Linked DNA regions of Homo sapiens: region 1 is linked to region 2. Evidence: fine-mapped expression QTL. A gene starts in region 2. The other region holds a variant in brackets. All regions are shown on one strand. Distances are from middle to middle.

Region 1 (8,331 bases), 850 kb before region 2:
GAGGAAGCAAGATACCTTCTTCACGAGGCAGCAGGAAGGAGAAGTGCTGCGCAAAGTGGTAAAGAGCCCTTTATAAAACCATCAGATCTCGTGAGAACTCACTCCCTATCGTGAGAACAGCATGGGGCAAACTGTTTCCATGATTCAATTACCTCCACCTGGTCTCTCCCTTGACACATGGGGATTATGGGGATTATAATTCAAGATGAGATTTGGGTGGGGACACAAAGCCTAACCATATTGTAAATCATCTGGCCTTCTCCAGCATGGCTGAGCTGAGAATGGAGGGGACTCATGTGCTCAGAAGCAGCCACACGTGTTTCAGCCTCATTTCTGAATGAATCCACCAACCTTCACAACACTACCCACCCACTCACCATTCCTGGAATCCCGGGGATGAAAATCTTATGTTTTTTATTGCATTTGTGTCCACAGAGGCTCCAGGACACAAGGGTGCACACTCCTAGTGGGTCTCCCATGTTGCTAAGGTCTTATTAGTCCTGGGCCTACAGACCTCCCTAAGTGGTACATTCCTGACTTTTTAGGCACCATCTCTTTGCTGCCAGCCCAGGTCATTAACTCTCTAAAGCCTAATAATGTCACGGATATACCGAAGGCCTGTCTGCTTTCTAAGAAGAAAGGGAGCTCTTTCTTCTTGGGGATTACTAAAGTTAAAAGAAGCTACCCACCCTCATTACCAATGTTCTCATCACCAGTGTCACCGCCACAATCATGACCTCATCTTACCATCATCACCATCAACTCTGACATCATTCTGCATTCAGCAAGAAAGGTTAAGTATGAAGTTGCACAGGGTACTAGGTACCGCCTAGAAAACTTCAGAACCCTAGTTTCTTTTTTTTTTTTTATTTTAAGATGGAGTCTCGCTCTGTCGCCCAGGCTGGAGTGCAGTGGTATCTCAGCTCACTGCAACTTCCACCTCCCAGGTTTAAGCAATTCTCCTGCCTCAGCCTCCCGAGTAGCTGGGACTACAGGCATGTGCCAAAATGCCAGGCTAATTTTTTTATATTTTTAGTAGAGACGAGGTTTCACCATGTTAGCCAGGATGGTCTCGATCTCCTGACCTCGTGATCCGCCCGCCTCGGCCTCCCAAAGTGCTGGGATTACAGGCGTGAGCCACCGTGCCTGGCCAGAAACCTAGTTTCTAGAAGAATGGTCTCCAAAGATTAATCTCCAGAAAATAATCCCAGGAGATACGCCATATTTAAGAGAAAAAAAATTCCATTGCCAGTTGAATTTTAGAAAGGCTGCATTCTGACAATACCTTTTAGCATATTAAAGGCTCTGAGAAGTCCTGCAGGAGAGAAATCTGTTTATGGCCATTTGACACAATCTTTCTCAGGTATAATTTACCACTAAGTCATGTTTCCACCTAACTTCCATTAACATCACAATGAACACATGTCCCATAGAAGATACGTTGAGAAGGTAGCTCTAAAAGCTGAAAACTGCACAGGCAACAGTACCACGGATCAAGGCGTGCTCATGGGCCACCAGTATGGATGCTCTTCAGGTGTGTATCCTAGCACTCAATCACAAAACCTATCCTTTCATCCTAGTCCAAAGTGGTCATTCTCTCCTAGGCCCTGGAAGATGGGAGTCTTCATCATCTCTGCCTCCCCAGTGCTCACTGAGCGCCCTCTGAGTGTCTTATGGATACAAGCATTATTCATGCTGCCCTCAATATGGCCAATTTCCCCTTCACAAATCTGTGGACATCCCACAGCTCTGGATATGCGTTTTCCGGGGTGAGAAGTAACTAAGAAATGCTTCACTGATACCTGAGCCCTCACACGGCTTTCCACCTACAGATCCCCCTGCCTCGGATGAGAGAGGGGCCCAAGGAATTTCACAGTCCAACCCCCATGGACACGAAGGCCCAGAAAGGGCAAGAACCCACGAGGACCACAGTGGCTGATGCCCTCCCCCATTTCCTTCAGCTACAGCAGTGTGGGAATGGGGGCTGGTCTGAGATGGCATTTTCATTGGTCCAAGTTGAGTGGAGAGAAATAGGTCCCCAGAGTAGATTTTTCATAAAGTGAAATGCTTTCAACTTGAAGGGTGTCCTGAAATTGTCATCGCTACCTTGGGAGTTAGAATATCCTTAAATAAGGGTGAAATTGATGACAAGTGTATTAGCTTCCTGTGGCTGCGATAACGAAGTACCCCAAACTGGCTTAAAACAACCAACATTTATTGTCTCACAGTTTGGGAAACCAGAAGTCCAAGATCAGGGTGTGGGTAGGGCCATCCTCCTGCTAATCCTTCCTGTCTCTTCCTAGTTTCTGATGGGGGCAAGAAATTTTTGGCATTCTTTGGCTTACAGCTGCAGCATGCCAGCCTCTGCCTCCGTCTTCACACGGCCTTCTCCCCGGTGTCTATGTCTTCACCTCATCTTTCCTCTGTGCCCAAATGTTCCCTTTTCACAAGGACACCAGTCATATTGGATCAGGGGGTCCACTCTGCTCCAGCATGGCCTCATCTTAACCAATTACATCCACAACAACCCTATTTCCAAGGAAGGTCACATTCACAGGCACCAGGATTTAAGACTTCAACATATCTTTTTAGGGGGATATAATTCAACCCATAACAGTGGGGGGTTTTTTCCTAATGTTTTTACCAGGCAGCTCTTAGGCCGAATCAAGATGTGCATTTGCTTTTTCTTTATTTTTGTTGTTGTTTTACAGGTGCATGAAATCCCACCACTGGGAAGCTGCCGGAGGGAGCACTGTCCCCTGCACCCACTCTCCCGCCTCCTCACCCCCAAGTAGGCTGGTCCCCCAGGCCTCACCCTGAGGACTCCTAGGATGTTTGAGGACTAATTTCAGCCTCACTCTGTCCTCCCCAGGGACCCAAAGGGTGGCATTAGCAGCTTTACCTTCACCATGGCAGGTAGAGAAGCTAAGTGGCCCTCCTCCTACATCCCTAGCAGGGCCTCTCCCTGACTCATCCCAATCCCAGGAGGTTTAGATTCAGGCAGGGCTGACCTCAGCATTTCTTCTGCAGTGGCCCCTGCAGGCGGGGGCACATCCCTAGGACTGGCTTGGACTTTCTGGCTCCAGTTACAAAGCCTAGAGGACAGAGCGATGATTGAGGTCTTCTCGGCACGGGGATGAAGAGCACTCTCTGGCCCACTGTGTGCATGCTCAGGGCTCCTCTGGACTGACAGCTGCCTGGCACATAGTAGATGCTCCGGAAAAGCTTGTGGAGGTGAGCAGAATGAAACTGGATTTCATAGTCCCAGTACCATTTCATTTATTTGGCTGCACTGCTCCCGTCAAACCAGGTCCCTCTGCCCACTTTCCCTTGTCCAGCCTCTGTCAATTCCAACTTCCATCCCTTTGCTGAGGCTGTACCTGCTATCTAGAGTACTTTTTCCTTTCCTCCATGCAGGCAAATCACAGGCACATTGCAAAGATGAATGTAGTGCCTACCTCCTCCGTGCCTCTGGAGTTACAAAGCTTTTTCCTAGGCACCTGGGGTTAACACATTGTCCTTTACTACCTGTT[A/T]TCTGCTTATTAGAACCAATTTTCTCCCCCCAGTTGCACAACAAACACTGATGAACAACCCTAGAAACAAATGTTATACATCACTACATGCTCCTTATTCCTCCCCGAGGTCCATGGTTCTGTTTCACAGAAAAAGCATGAGGTTTGACTTCAGGCAGGCCTGGGTTCAAATCCAGACTCTGCTATTTACTAGCTGTGTGGCCACAGGCAGTGCCATACTCTCTATGAGCCTCATCAGTAAAATAAGGATAGGAAGACCACTTCGTATATTGTAGACACAAAGATGCACTTCCTAGATTCCCCTTCCAGGACCCATTACAGCCCCCAGTTCTGGGGCTGCAGTCAGCAGACAGCCCCCAGGTGTTGGCTCCTTCAGGATCTGGCTCAGCAACAGAGCTGTACCACTCCTAAGGCCACTTCCTTCCCAGGACAACCTGCATCCAGCTACAAAGCCAGATGGGGATATATAGGCCCAAGCCATTCCAGCCCAATACCGGACACTGATGGGCAATTCTTGCTCTACACTCCTCTCAGGGATGATCAAAGCTTTGTAGAGCTTGTGTCACAGTTCAATGTCTTCTCTGCATATCCTGCTTCCTCCCCCATCCCCACTCCTGCCCTAGTGTTAACCTCTAATAAACATCTCTGCTCCAAACTCCATCTCAGCATCTGCTTCTGACAAACCAATGTGTTGCAGAAAATGTAAGAATTGTAATTTATGATCTCAAGGCACCCAGCAACATGCTTGGCACATAGTAGGTGCTGAGAGACCTCACTTCCCTCCTTGCCCCAGTGAGGAATAAATGGAAGGCTCTGTGAAGGCAGTTTGAGTCGAATCTCTCCAAAAGGGTAGGAGAGTCCCAAGAATTCCTATGTGCCAAATTCCTGGAGAGGCTGAGCAGGAAGGACTCAAAGACACCCAGGCCCCTGTGATTAAAGACACATAAGTGGATTCAGATGACCAGGGAATATTGAAACTCACCCCCGCAAGTGGTGGTAGTCAGGGGTGAGTGGAAATCTATACATGGAGTGAACGTTTTCCAGCTCCTCCAGGCACTGCTGCCCTGCAGCCTCCTGCTGTCTGCCCAGGAGTGGAAGACTGCTCAGCTTTGAGGAGTTTTTTCTATAAAAATAACCCCCCACTATTATTCTTTGCAGTGTGAAGTGAAAACTTACCTGGATGAGGTTTCACAGGAAGCGTAAGTTGCTAGAGACAGCGAGAGGAGCTCCTGCACTGAGAGCAAGAAATGAAGCAAGTTCTTGGGATGTAGAACTAAAGGGAAGTAAGCAACAATTTTTTAAGTGTGGGTCTGACCTCAGAGTCCTAGTACCAATGTCTCCTCGGCATGAGAAACTGAGGTTTGGCCACAAGTCCCCCCTTTGCCTGCCTCCTAGGAGCCCTCATCTGCCTTCACACCAACTCTCCAACCTAAACAACCTGAAGGGTGGTTTCTATCAAGGCCATAATGGAGTACCAGCGACCCAGGGAGAAAGCACAGCAAATGTCAATACAGTCTTCAGAGCCAGGCAGCTCCCATCCAGCCTCAGCTCTGCCACTTTGTGGCTGTGTGACCTTAGGCAAGTTACTTAACATCTCAGAGCCTCAGCTAGCTATTACTATCTTCATTATCATGTTATTCTTGCCATGAAGAGTTAAGATTCCTGAGCAAAAGGATGAGCATGCCTTGAAACAAAAGCAAATCGTGTGCTCTGCCCTACTGGAGTACTAACTAGCACAGGCGGCTGGAGCAGTCGAGGTGAATTTCACTCAGGAGGTGGCATTCAAGTGACAGCTTGAGGGACAAACTTTGGATGGGTATGGGAAAGAGAGAGAAAGCAGAAGGCGTAAAATCTATGGAAGAAATCACAAAGATAGAAATGGGCATGGGAAGCTTGTGGGACAGAGACTGGGAGAAACAGATGGACATAGCCTCTGCTTTCCAGCCCTGAGGATTCAAAGGTGAGTGATACACAGTCCAGAAGAGAGAGGAGAACAGTCAAGGCAAATCAGGAACCAGCCCGGGAAACAGAGACCCACAGAGGACATTGAGGCAAGTGCATGACTAAGCCTCCCATGACAGCCAGGTGGGCAGGGAAGGAGGAGGAAACGGATGGCTGTGGAGGCCTTGAGACTTGCCCAGGTAGGCCGGGTCCAGAACTCCCACCCCAGGGCTCCTCTGGTGTGCGGGGGGCAGGTCAATCTGGGGGCTCCCCCTGACCCAGGCTGCTCCTGTCGGCACCCTGTACTCTATGGCTGCCCCACAAAGACCCAGGCCTCTCGAGGAGGCAGCCCTGACCAACCCACACTGCCATGGCTCTCACTGTGGTTTTCAGGAGCAAATGCATTCCACATGGCAGCCAGCCCCGGCTTTCCCTGGCAGGGATGAAGACGCTGTGAAAGGACCCTTTGCCTCCCTGCTGAGTCCCCCAAGAACAAGGCTTCTTTGTCTACAGCTGCTTCCCTGCAGAGTGAAACCTCTGATGAAGGCCGAGCCCCAAGCCTCAGGACCACCACTCCAGCCTTCTGTGAGCTGGCACCACTATTGGTGCCCACAAGCAACCCCCTTCTCTCCTTCCCCATATCACTCCCAGAATCCAGGAAGCGGTCCCTGGGATCCAAGCACCAGCCAAAGAGCCCCAGAAAGGAAAATAACCTTGAAATTGCAGAGTTGGGAGCCAAAATAGAGGCAAGCAAAATGTGGGTACCCCAAAGGTGTAGTGGGGAGGGGCCAGCTCTACACTGGGCAGGCCCCTAAAAAGGAGCTGGGGTCCAGGGGTATGTGGGAGCAGCTCAGTGGCTTCACAAGGCAGGTTCATGGCACACATTGCAGAGCTGCAGGGCACCTGAGCAGACCATATGTGGGTCTACAGACCCCCTTCTGAGCCCCATGCTAGAGACAGCCATATGAGCGTGTCATCACAGCCTCTGTCCTAGTGATGATGGCCGGCAGGCCCAATAACCACCACTTTACACCATCAATGCTTTAATACAAGCACGTACAAAGCCCAGGAAAGATGAGCCCAGGATGAGATGAGCCCAGGAGAGAGCAGCTATACTCCTGGGGGTACTGGGACCCCTTCTGTGGCCATGCACCACCCAGATCCCCCTTCAAGGAAAGACTTGCTTCTGCAGCTGCGGGCAGTGTTAGCAGCAGACAATCCCAGCTGTTGGCCCCTCAGCCATTGACTCAGCTGTAGACAGCAATCTCCCTCAAGGCCATGTCCTTTCCCGGCCAGCCCACATCCAGTGATTAAGCAAGACTGGGGGACTTGGAAGAGCCACCTGGGTCAAAAGCAGGTCCACTGTAAATGGGCCATGCTAGCTCCAGAGCTCCCCGTGGGGCCAGGGCTGCCACTGGCCTGCCCTGCAGCTTGGCTTCTCTCTCTGCCCATGCCTGCTCCCTCTCCCCTTCCCCAGGCACCCAGCATCCTTAGCACACAAACTCCCTCTCAGAGTCTGCTTCCCAGGGAAGCCAACCTGCAACAACTTTCCACAAAGAGGTGGCAGTGTTTTCCATTGCGTGTGGGGTCCAAGGTAGAAAGCACATCCTCTGACGCCACTCCTGCATCGGCAGCTGAACAAGAAGTGGCCCCAGGTCCACAGAGCCGAGTCCAGTGGGTGACCAGTGTATAAAGGGCAATAGGACCTTTTTCTACATTGGGCTTTTTCTAAAAGCACTTTTCTATTGTTAATCTGTCTTTTGTTACGGGGTCTCAGCCATGAACCTTGCAATGGGTAAGGAAAATACACTGCTTTTCTCCCCTACAACAGCAGTGGGGTGGGGTTGGGGTTGGGGCCGTATTTCAATATTTCAGAGTTATATTGATTGGCAGATTTTAGAAACAAGAAGCCTGGTTGGGAGCTCTGGCCTTGCCTCTTTGAATCATTCTGCAAACTTTGACATCTCGTAAGCTCTTCAATTCTACATTCTCTCCTTCCTCAGTAAATGCCTTCCTTGCAGCACTGTGGTGAGAAGCACTCAATCATATAGGCAAAAGTCCCTGGAACTCAGGAAATGCTCAATGCCTTTATTTCTTTACTCTCCATATAATGGGTCTTTGTCAATCAAGGCTACCAATGAAGAAACTGAGTCCCCTGTAAAGCAAAGATGAGTTTGTTTGACAATGTACACACTGAGTAGCCAACCTCCTTGCCTGACCGTACCTATCATGCCCCGTTCCACCCATCTGGACCCCAGCCCACTCTCACACCCTGGGGCAGGGGCCAGCATCTGGAGGGCTCCACAATGCATTCCGTTCTGTAGGAGAATAGTCAGCCTCCAGGAGATCCCTTCCTGACTTGGTCTGTAGCCCAAAAGGGTGCAAAGATGGGAAGAGGCATGGGCTTGGGTATTCAGATCTCCGAGAAAGCTGAACCGGAGCCAGGGCAGAGAGGGGCCAAGACAAGCCGGGACTGGGCGGGAGGCGGGTGGGGGTGGGGGGTGGAGGAGGGCAGCTGCCTGCCACCACCTATCACCACATCTGGGAGTCAGGGAACATGAGGCCCCAGAATGGGAGAGAACAAGGGAGGAAATTAGAGACAAAACGTGAACTTCATAAAGATTTTATTCAATCAAACTCCAAAAACAGCTGCAACCCCATAATGGCAGCCAAGGCTGGCTTTCTGATTTTTCACTTTGATTAATTATCTAATGACTTGCAGGGCTCCCTGCTGCTTTATGACTTGCACGTTTTTCTGTTTCTTTTTCCCTCCACCCCCACCCTCCTGCTCTGTTCTGATCCTCATCCTCTAGAGCCTGCCTCCCCACAAAACCAGCTTTACCCCACCTCCTCTTTG
Region 2 (8,331 bases):
TGAACATATGAAAAGTTACTCATCTTCATTAAGCATCAGAGAAATGTAAGATAAATACACAGTGAGATCCTACTACACGCCAACCAGAATGGCAAGATTAAAAATACCAAAAAAAAAAATCAAATATTGACAAGGTGTGGAGCAATTAGAACTGTCACACACAGTTGATACCAGAGTAAACTGGTACAATCATTATGGAAAATTGTTTGACAGTATCTAGCCTGGCCTTTGGGCCAGACATGGTGACTCGTGCCTGTAATCTCAGCAGTTTGGGAGGCTGAGACAGGCAGATTGCTTGAGCCCAGGAGTTTAAGACCAGCCTGGGCAACATGGGAAAACCCCACCTCTGCAAAAAATACAGAAAATTAGCCGGGCATAGTGTCATGTACCTGTAGTCCCAGCTACTCAGGAGGCTGAGGTGGGAGAATCACCCGTGCCCAAGAAGTCCAGTCTACCGTGAGCCATGATCACGCCACTGCACTCCAGCCTGGGTGACAGAGCAAGACTCTGTCTCAAAAAAAAAAAATTTAATTTAAAAAGGCTTTTGTAAAAACTGTCAAGGCAATATCTTCTACTAAAGCTGAGCATAGGCATACCCTGCAACCTAACAGTTCTACCGCGAGATAGGCCCCAAAGAAGTTTGTTCTTGTGTTCACCAAGAGTCACGTAGAAGAACGTTACAGCACTCTTTGTAGTAGTCCCAAGTGGCAAGTATCTAAATTCTATCAACAGAAAAAAAAGTGATTTTTTAAAATATAGTATATTCACAGTGGAATATTATATAAAGGTCAAATGCAGGGAAAAGTAATGTATTGTGCTAAAAGTCAGGATAATGATTATCCTTGCGGGGTAGTGTCTGGAAGGGGACACAATGGGGTGTTCTAGAGTGCCAGTCAAGTTCTGCTTGAACATGCCACTCCACTCCAGTATGGGTAGTGTGTCCCTTTGCGAAAATTCATCAAGCAGTACACTGATGATTTGTGTGTTTTGTTGTTTTTTGTTTGTTTGTTTGTTTGGGTTTTTTGTTTTTTTTTTTGAGACAGTCTCACTCTGTTGCCCAGGCTGGAGTGCAATGGCGTGATCTCGGCTCACCGCAACCTCCACCTGCAGGGTTCAGGTGATTCTCCTGCCTCAGCCTCCTGAGGAACTGAGATTACAGGAGCCTACCACGCCCAGCTAATTTTTGTATTTTTAGCAGAGATGAGGTTTCACCATGTTGGCCAGGCTGGTCTCGAACTCCTGACCTTAAGTGATCCACCTGCCTCGGCCTCCCAAAGTGCTGGGATTACAGGCGTGAGCCATTGTACCCAGCCTGTGTATTTTTCTTACACAGGTAATACTTTAATTAAAAGATGTGTTGTTTTTTAAAGCTAGTCTCCTGATCCAAACCTGGTCTCACAGAATTGTAGGGACTAATCATAAATGGATTCAGAAAAATAAGATATTATAAGGCAAAGAATATCCACAGTATTATTTCATCTTGCTAAATGTAAACAATGCTTATCTCTGGATTTTAGATGACATTTATTTTCTTTTTACTTTATTTATTGTTTCATTTTTCTACAATGATCACATGTTACCTGTCATAGTTGTTTTTTAAAATAAAATTTGTTTATGATAAGTTAAGATAAGATAATGAGAAGAGGGTTGGCACTCGAATGCTTTAGCTCACTGTGTCCAAAGCAAGCCCTGGGTGGGGCTCTGTTGCTGCCCTTGTCTCTACTGGATTCCTGGAAGTTGGAAATGGGTGAAGAAACAGAGGATGTAGTACAAACACAAAAGGTCATCTATACATCTATAAGCTCAAGGTCATCTATGCAGAACAAACTTGGAAGCTATAGGGAGAGTCAAAGCTTTCTTGATCCTGGCTGGGACACCTAGACCTACACCTCACTAAGACCCTCTGCTTCACTCCTAATCCATGTGTCAGTCTCTACCACCTTGATTGACTTTTCTTTTAAGTTTCCCCTTCACCGGGTTTACCTTTGCTAAATGAGATGTTTTAACGTAACCCAATGCTGCATTTCTCCTGTTCTCCCTGTCTATGGTGATGCCACTCACATTTTCCATACAGCAGCTGCTCTGCATCCTCCTATTAGGGTGACGGTCCCAACTGGATGATGGGCTCCTCTCCTACTCATCAGAAAACATGCTATGTCATTTAATAAGCCTGATTTTCCCATCTTGAATCAGAGAAGGATAGGAAGAACTGAGTTGTGAATGATTTTCCTTTCCTGTGGAGCTCCAGAGGAACATCCTATACGTCTCACAAATCTGAAAGAGGAAAAACTGGCAGTTGTATTTTCTCTTTGGTACCATAAGCTTCCTTACAACACAAGTGAGTCCAACTTGTGAAAAGAGTCATCTCCATAACTGCTCTATTAACTAGCTTATGTTTATTGAGCCCTTTTGTTTTGTTTTGTTTTGTTTTGTTTTGTTTTTGAGACGGAGTTTCACTCTTGTCGCCCAGGCTGGAGTGCAATGGTGTGATCTTGGCTCACTGCAACCTCCGCCTCCTGGGTTCAAGCGATTCTCCTGCCTCAGCCTCCCAAGTGTCTGGGATTACAGGTGCCCGCCACCACACCCACCTAATTTTTGTATTTTTAGTAGATAGGGTTTCACCATGTTGGTCAGGCTGGTCTTGAACTCCTGACCTCAGGTAATCCACCCGCCTCAGCCTCCCAAAGTGCTGGGATTACAGGCATGAGCCACCACACCCGGCCGATCACTTATGTTTTATCACATCTAATCTTCAGGGTCTAGTCCTCCCCTAGGCCCTATAAAATAGATTCTACTCATTCATTCAACAAGTATATATTGTACTCTTATTATGTGTCAGGAACTATTCTAAGTGCTGGAGATGTGCGAGTCAACAGAAAACAATGTTCCTGACTTCATGGAGCTTACAGTCTGGTGAGAAGACACATACAAAACAAACATAAAACTGAAATTGTCCCAAGCACTAAGATGGAGAGGCATCTGGTGCTGAGAATGGGCAGTCAAGCAAAACTGTGGAAATAAGGTTTGAGGTGAGCTCTAAGAAATAAGCAGAAGCTAACTAGACAGCTAAAGAGCAGACAAAGGAAATAGCTTGTATCAAGGCCCTGGGGCTAGAGAGAGGTCTAAGTATATGCAAATCAAAGATCAGTGTGGCAGTGGTCAGGGAAGAAGGGGGTATCAATTCTATCCCAGGTCTGCCTGATATCCGATACTCCAGAGCCAGAGTTCCTAACCATTTCAGCCTCTCCCGTAGAGGTCTAGCCCCAGTCACAGAAGCTAAAAGTCCACAGCTCACGTGCAGTGAAGAGAAAGCTTTAAAGACATAGGTGGGGTGTTGCGTGCGATTTTCCTAAGGAAGCCTTCCAGGAAACGAATGCAACCTTGAAGACTTGTAGGCATTGGCAGACAGGAGCTAGAAGACCTCCCCTAGATCCTTAACACGAAATATAGGCTTGACGCAGAAGCCTCTCTTCGTATCCCAAAGCGGACAGGTGAGAGAAATGATGTGACAGGAGCAAGCGAACTACAACCCCGCCCCGCCGTTCCTGCCCCACCACTGCGGCGGCGGGCGCTACGTTCCGGAAGCGGAAATGGACGAGAGGTCAGGGTAGGTTTTTGAAGATGGCGGCCCTCAAGGCTCTGGTGTCCGGCTGTGGGCGGCTTCTCCGTGGGCTACTAGCGGGCCCGGCAGCGACCAGCTGGTCTCGGCTTCCAGCTCGCGGGTTCAGGGAAGGTGAGTCATGCGTCCCAGCAACCTCCTGAAATTAAGAAGAGCGGCAGAGACTGCTTCCGCCAGCCCCGGTGCGCTCCTTCCTACCTTTCCTTCGTCCGATTCTGAAACTTTGGAGGTACCGGCTCCCCAGGCGTGCTTAAAAGCCCCTTCCACACCCTGGTGCCTTATCTTGATCTCCTGCCCCTTGTGAGTATCTTCACAAGGCGGAGGAGGACGGAGAGAAAAGCCTGCTTACTTAGCAGGAGCAGACACTAAACCTGTCCTAGGGCTCAGAAAAGTTTTCGGAAAGGGTTTGCATGTTAATTCTTCCTTCCATGTTCTCCGAATCGCAGTCTCTTTTATTAAAGAGTCTCTGGATCACGAAGGAAGGCCATCTGGGTACCCTCCCAGAGCCTCCCTTTCCACTTTCCCTTCTCAAAATGCTGTGATCTGATGGCGGCGTTCTCTGCCCCGGGCCGCTAGTCTCCCTGTGAGGGGGAGGCCAAAGTGGAAAGGCCATTGAATAGCTGAGACATAGGCAAATGCAGGATGGTAGTTCAGCTTTTCATTAATCTTAATCTGGGAAAGCGGCCTGATTCGAGCATCAACTGAGAGTTTACTGAATGCCAAGTGCTATGCTTCAAGCTGTGAAGGAATTCTGGAGACAGAAAATACAGCCCTTTTTCTGAAAAGCTTAGGTTCTAATGAGATTATGTATATACACACTCCAATAAATGCAAGTTAGCCTTTTACGTGACGAAGTACAGGGAGACTCAGTTACTGGAAACGGCAAACCCAGTTGGAAGTTTTCATAAAGAGGATGTGTCTTGAGCAGGCTCACAAAAGGATGGAATCTGGCGGAGAGTGAAACGGTCTTTTAGGACATAGCCTTCCTTTGTGTACTCCTGGAAGCAGGAAAGGATGAGTGATGTGCAAAAGAAGAGATGTGGGGTTTTTTGAGGATCTGGCATAGTATTGGGCAGCATATCCTTTAACGAAAGCTGAGAAGTATCCAGTGGAAAAGAGTGATCATTGTTGTCAGAGGGAGCAGAAAAGTCTAAAAAGGGCCTAATGAAGGGGCCATTGGATTTGTCTCAGAAGAGGTCTCTTTGTAGCTTTCAAACAGCAATTTCAATAGAGTGGCAAACAAGGAATCCAGTTTGGAGAAATGAAAGAGATAGTTGATGAAGAGATGGAAATAGTAAGTATGTTTGAAGAATTTAGCCCGTAAGGGAAGTGGAGCATTTGCTAGAAAAAAAAGTCTGGATATTGCCTGATTAACTTATCCATTAGTAGACCCATTAATAAAGACACTAAAGAAATCATGCAGATGATAGAGAGGACTTGGATGTTTCATTTGTTCCCATGCTGCAAAATAGGCATATCTCCATACCATTTTGGGGAGTCTACCAAGTGTCAAACACTATTGGCTACAATTTGCATATTCTTATGAAATTCAAAGTTGAGGCAGATTTTGCTATGCTTCCAGAAAAAAAGGCAAGAGGAATCGTTTTGTTTTAACAACAAATATTTGAAGTTAGACTTAATTTTTTCCTTTGGAGAGTTTGTGAAATGATGGACTGTAAGCCAGGTACAGTGGTACATATCTTTAATCCCAGCACTTTGGAAGGCCAAGGTGGGAGGATCACTTGAGCCCAGAAATTGGAGTCTAACCTGGGCAACGTAGTGAGAACGCCCACCTCTTTAAAAAAAGTAAAAAAGGATGGACTGTAAATCAAATGGGTCTCTGAAGTCCTTCATCTAAATGTTAGGTTGAATTAATATGATTCTACATGAAGGCACTACCATATTCTATATTCTTAAGAATCACCTATCTTCAAAGCTTGTAAATGAAAACATTTTCTTTTGCTAGTCTATGCATTATGTGTAAGGCATAAAGTATTATACATATAGCTAATTTTGACTAGTCTCAGCTGGTATATGTGACACCCAAACAATATTGTACACATAGAATTTAAAGTTGTGGGAAAGAAGCTGGTTCTCTTGCTGAAAATATTCAGGCATCCTACTTTTCAAAGTATCAGATAATAATACATAATTTTAGTCAGCTCTTGAGGACTGAGCACCAATTTTCCTGTCTATGAAGACTTTCAGTCTAAAACAGTGATTTTCAACTGGGGGGCAATTTTGTCCCCCAGTAACAATTGGCCATGTCTGCAGACATTTTTGGTTGTCACAACTGGTACTACTGGCATCTGGGGGGTAGAGGCGAGGGACGCTGCTAAACATAATGCACAAGTCAGTTCCCCACAACAAAGAACCATCTGGCCCAAAATGGCAGTCCTGCTGCTGTTGAGAAAGCCTGGTTTAAAGTTTGACCAGAGAGATACACAAAGCCAAAAAAAGGTTATTATGGGAAAAGCAAGACTGAAGGAGGACGAAAATAGAAATTGTGACTTACTGTGCCTGCTTCAAATACTGTGCTAGGTTTTCCACATACATTTATTCAGTCTTCTCAAAAACACCTTAAAGGTAGATATTAACTGTCCTCATTTTTATAAATGAGGAAATGCCGTTCCAAGGGGTTTAATAGCTTGCCCAGCATCACCTGTCTAATAAGTGATGGAGTTGGAAGTAGAGCCAGCCCTCTTCCCTCTCCACCAGTAACATCACCTTGGTATTCCATGGCAGGGCCTCCCTTATTGTTCCCTCCTTCCCTGAAAGCTCTTAGCAGTTAACTTGCCAAAGACCATTTAGTGCCATTATGGTTGGCACTGCCAGATTTAGCAAAGACTGTGTTGGATCTCATTCCTCCCTTATCCCTCTTAGAGCCCTTGTGAAGGAAATGTATTTAAAATAAAAAAACAAACATATTATTATATAAATTAAGACATGATTTGTCAGACACTTAGAGAAAGGTATATTGAAGTGAGTAAAGGCCAAAGGGAATTTGCTTCATCTCTTTCACAGTCAGTTAAGAAGGCCTTCTGGAAGACCTAACGTTTCAGACAAGGGTATGCCTGGCAGGTTGGGCAGTCCCATATAAAAGCTTTGAGAGAGGAGTGAGTTGGAGTCTTTAAAGAATTCAGGGGACATAGTCCAGAGTAACCTGCTAGTGGGAAGAAATTTTTGTGCAGCAGTAAGACGACTCATTCTGAAGCATAGGGCAGAGGGACATTCCCTCAGGGGTCCAAGGGAAAGAAAGGGGGAGGTGATGAGGGAACCAGAAACTTTAATGGTAGAGTTAAAGATGAACTGGAGGAAGCAGGGCTTGAGGCAGGAAGGTGTTTGCAAAAAGTTGTCAGTGGCCAGAAATGCAAGCACACATCCCAAACATGGCACACCTCTCCCTGACCCTACATAAGACTATTAGGGCCACTGCCCAGCCATCAGTTACTCCAGTCTTTCCTACTCTGCTTGGGCCCTGGTTTTTACAGATCCTCTCCAAGAGGGACCTTGGTCTCTGGGCACTTCAGCAGTGCCCTGCACTCCTCATCTTTTTTCACTTCCTCTTTTATTAAGCAGTTGAGTCTTTACATGGCTGCAGTTCACTGTGTCTGTTCATGTGGCCATCAAGGTTTTTTGCATTTTCTGTGTTTGTTGTTGTTGTTGTTGTTTAAGAGACAAGGTCTTGCTGTGTTGCCCAGGCTGGCCTCTAACTCCTTAGCTCAGGTGATCCTCCTGAGTAGCTGAGACTATAGGTGTCACCCCATCTCCTCCTTTTGCATTCACTGCAATCTCACCACAATGTCATTTGTTCCACACTGTTATAATTCAGTTATCTTGGACTCCATCCTGGGCAAGTATTTACTGAAGTACTCAAAGGACCTCTTTACGAGGCATGGACTTTATTATAGTCAAGTTCCCATGCAGAGTTTAGTTCTTTTCCTCCTCTAGGGCAAAGACTGTGGCTCCTATTCTACTGTAATTCACAGTAGGTAGAATGAAGCTGTATAGTCCATAAGTGCCCAGCAAATGTGTTGCCTCACTGGGGACAGATTATTTCATGTGTATGAGAAGTGCTTATCTGGAAAGATTTTGGCCCTTAGTTCCAGTTTAGAAAACTGCTTCATCTCTTCCCTTAGCTTACTTGATACTGCCATATCTCAGAACACAAGGGTGATTCCATCTTTTTCTAAACAAGTTTTCTGTTACTGCCTAAATCTCTCAGTCCAGCTTTTCTTAGCCACCCCCACTTCTCTTGAATAGGGAGGCAGCCAGGAACAAAATGGATCAGGTTTTGTTTGGTTTTGACACGTTTTTGTATGCACCCTGTAAATCAATACTATTTTGATTCCTATCTCCTCTTTCGAGGGGCTTAAAATCTACTAAGGGCCTCAAGGACCAGGTTCCAACAGGGCCTTCTCCCCCTGCACTAAGACACCACCCTGATCAGTGTCAGTTCAATGTGAGTTCTCAGGTCATTCCTTCTGGTTTGACAAATTGTCTCTGTTAGATAAGCATCTGCCTATTGTTTTACCCACTGGCTTCTAGTAAGATGATTCGCTGGCTCACAGTTGCTGCGTGGAGGGGGAGTTTGTGAACAGTGGAGCTTGCCATGGGCTTTGATCTGTTTTCCAGGGGCCAGTGGGATGACTTCAGGATTTGGTACTTTGCCGGGAGTGATGTGTGTTTTGTTAGACTTGTTTACCTCATGG

The links. PIP is the estimated chance that this variant, and not a neighbour inherited with it, causes the effect.
Region 1: its variant is fine-mapped to the expression of MRPS18A in spleen (GTEx, PIP 0.92).

What each region holds. Positions count from the first base shown.
Region 1 is chr6:44,529,185-44,537,515 of GRCh38, reverse strand. No RefSeq gene overlaps it. Among named protein-coding and RNA genes, the nearest start is that of MIR4642, 98 kb to the right of the region's middle. The variant A/T (reference allele first, on the strand shown) is at 3,534.
Region 2 is chr6:43,683,070-43,691,400 of GRCh38, reverse strand. It overlaps MRPS18A (mitochondrial ribosomal protein S18A), which reads left to right and starts at 3,610. Exons shown (of 6, transcript NM_018135.4): 1 at 3,610-3,733. The coding sequence starts at 3,622. LOC124901320 (a long non-coding RNA gene) reads right to left here and starts at 2,439. Exons shown (of 2, transcript XR_007059586.1): 1 at 2,062-2,439; 2 at 1,508-1,730. RefSeq lists enhancers at 3,240-3,851, 3,797-3,856, 7,244-7,293.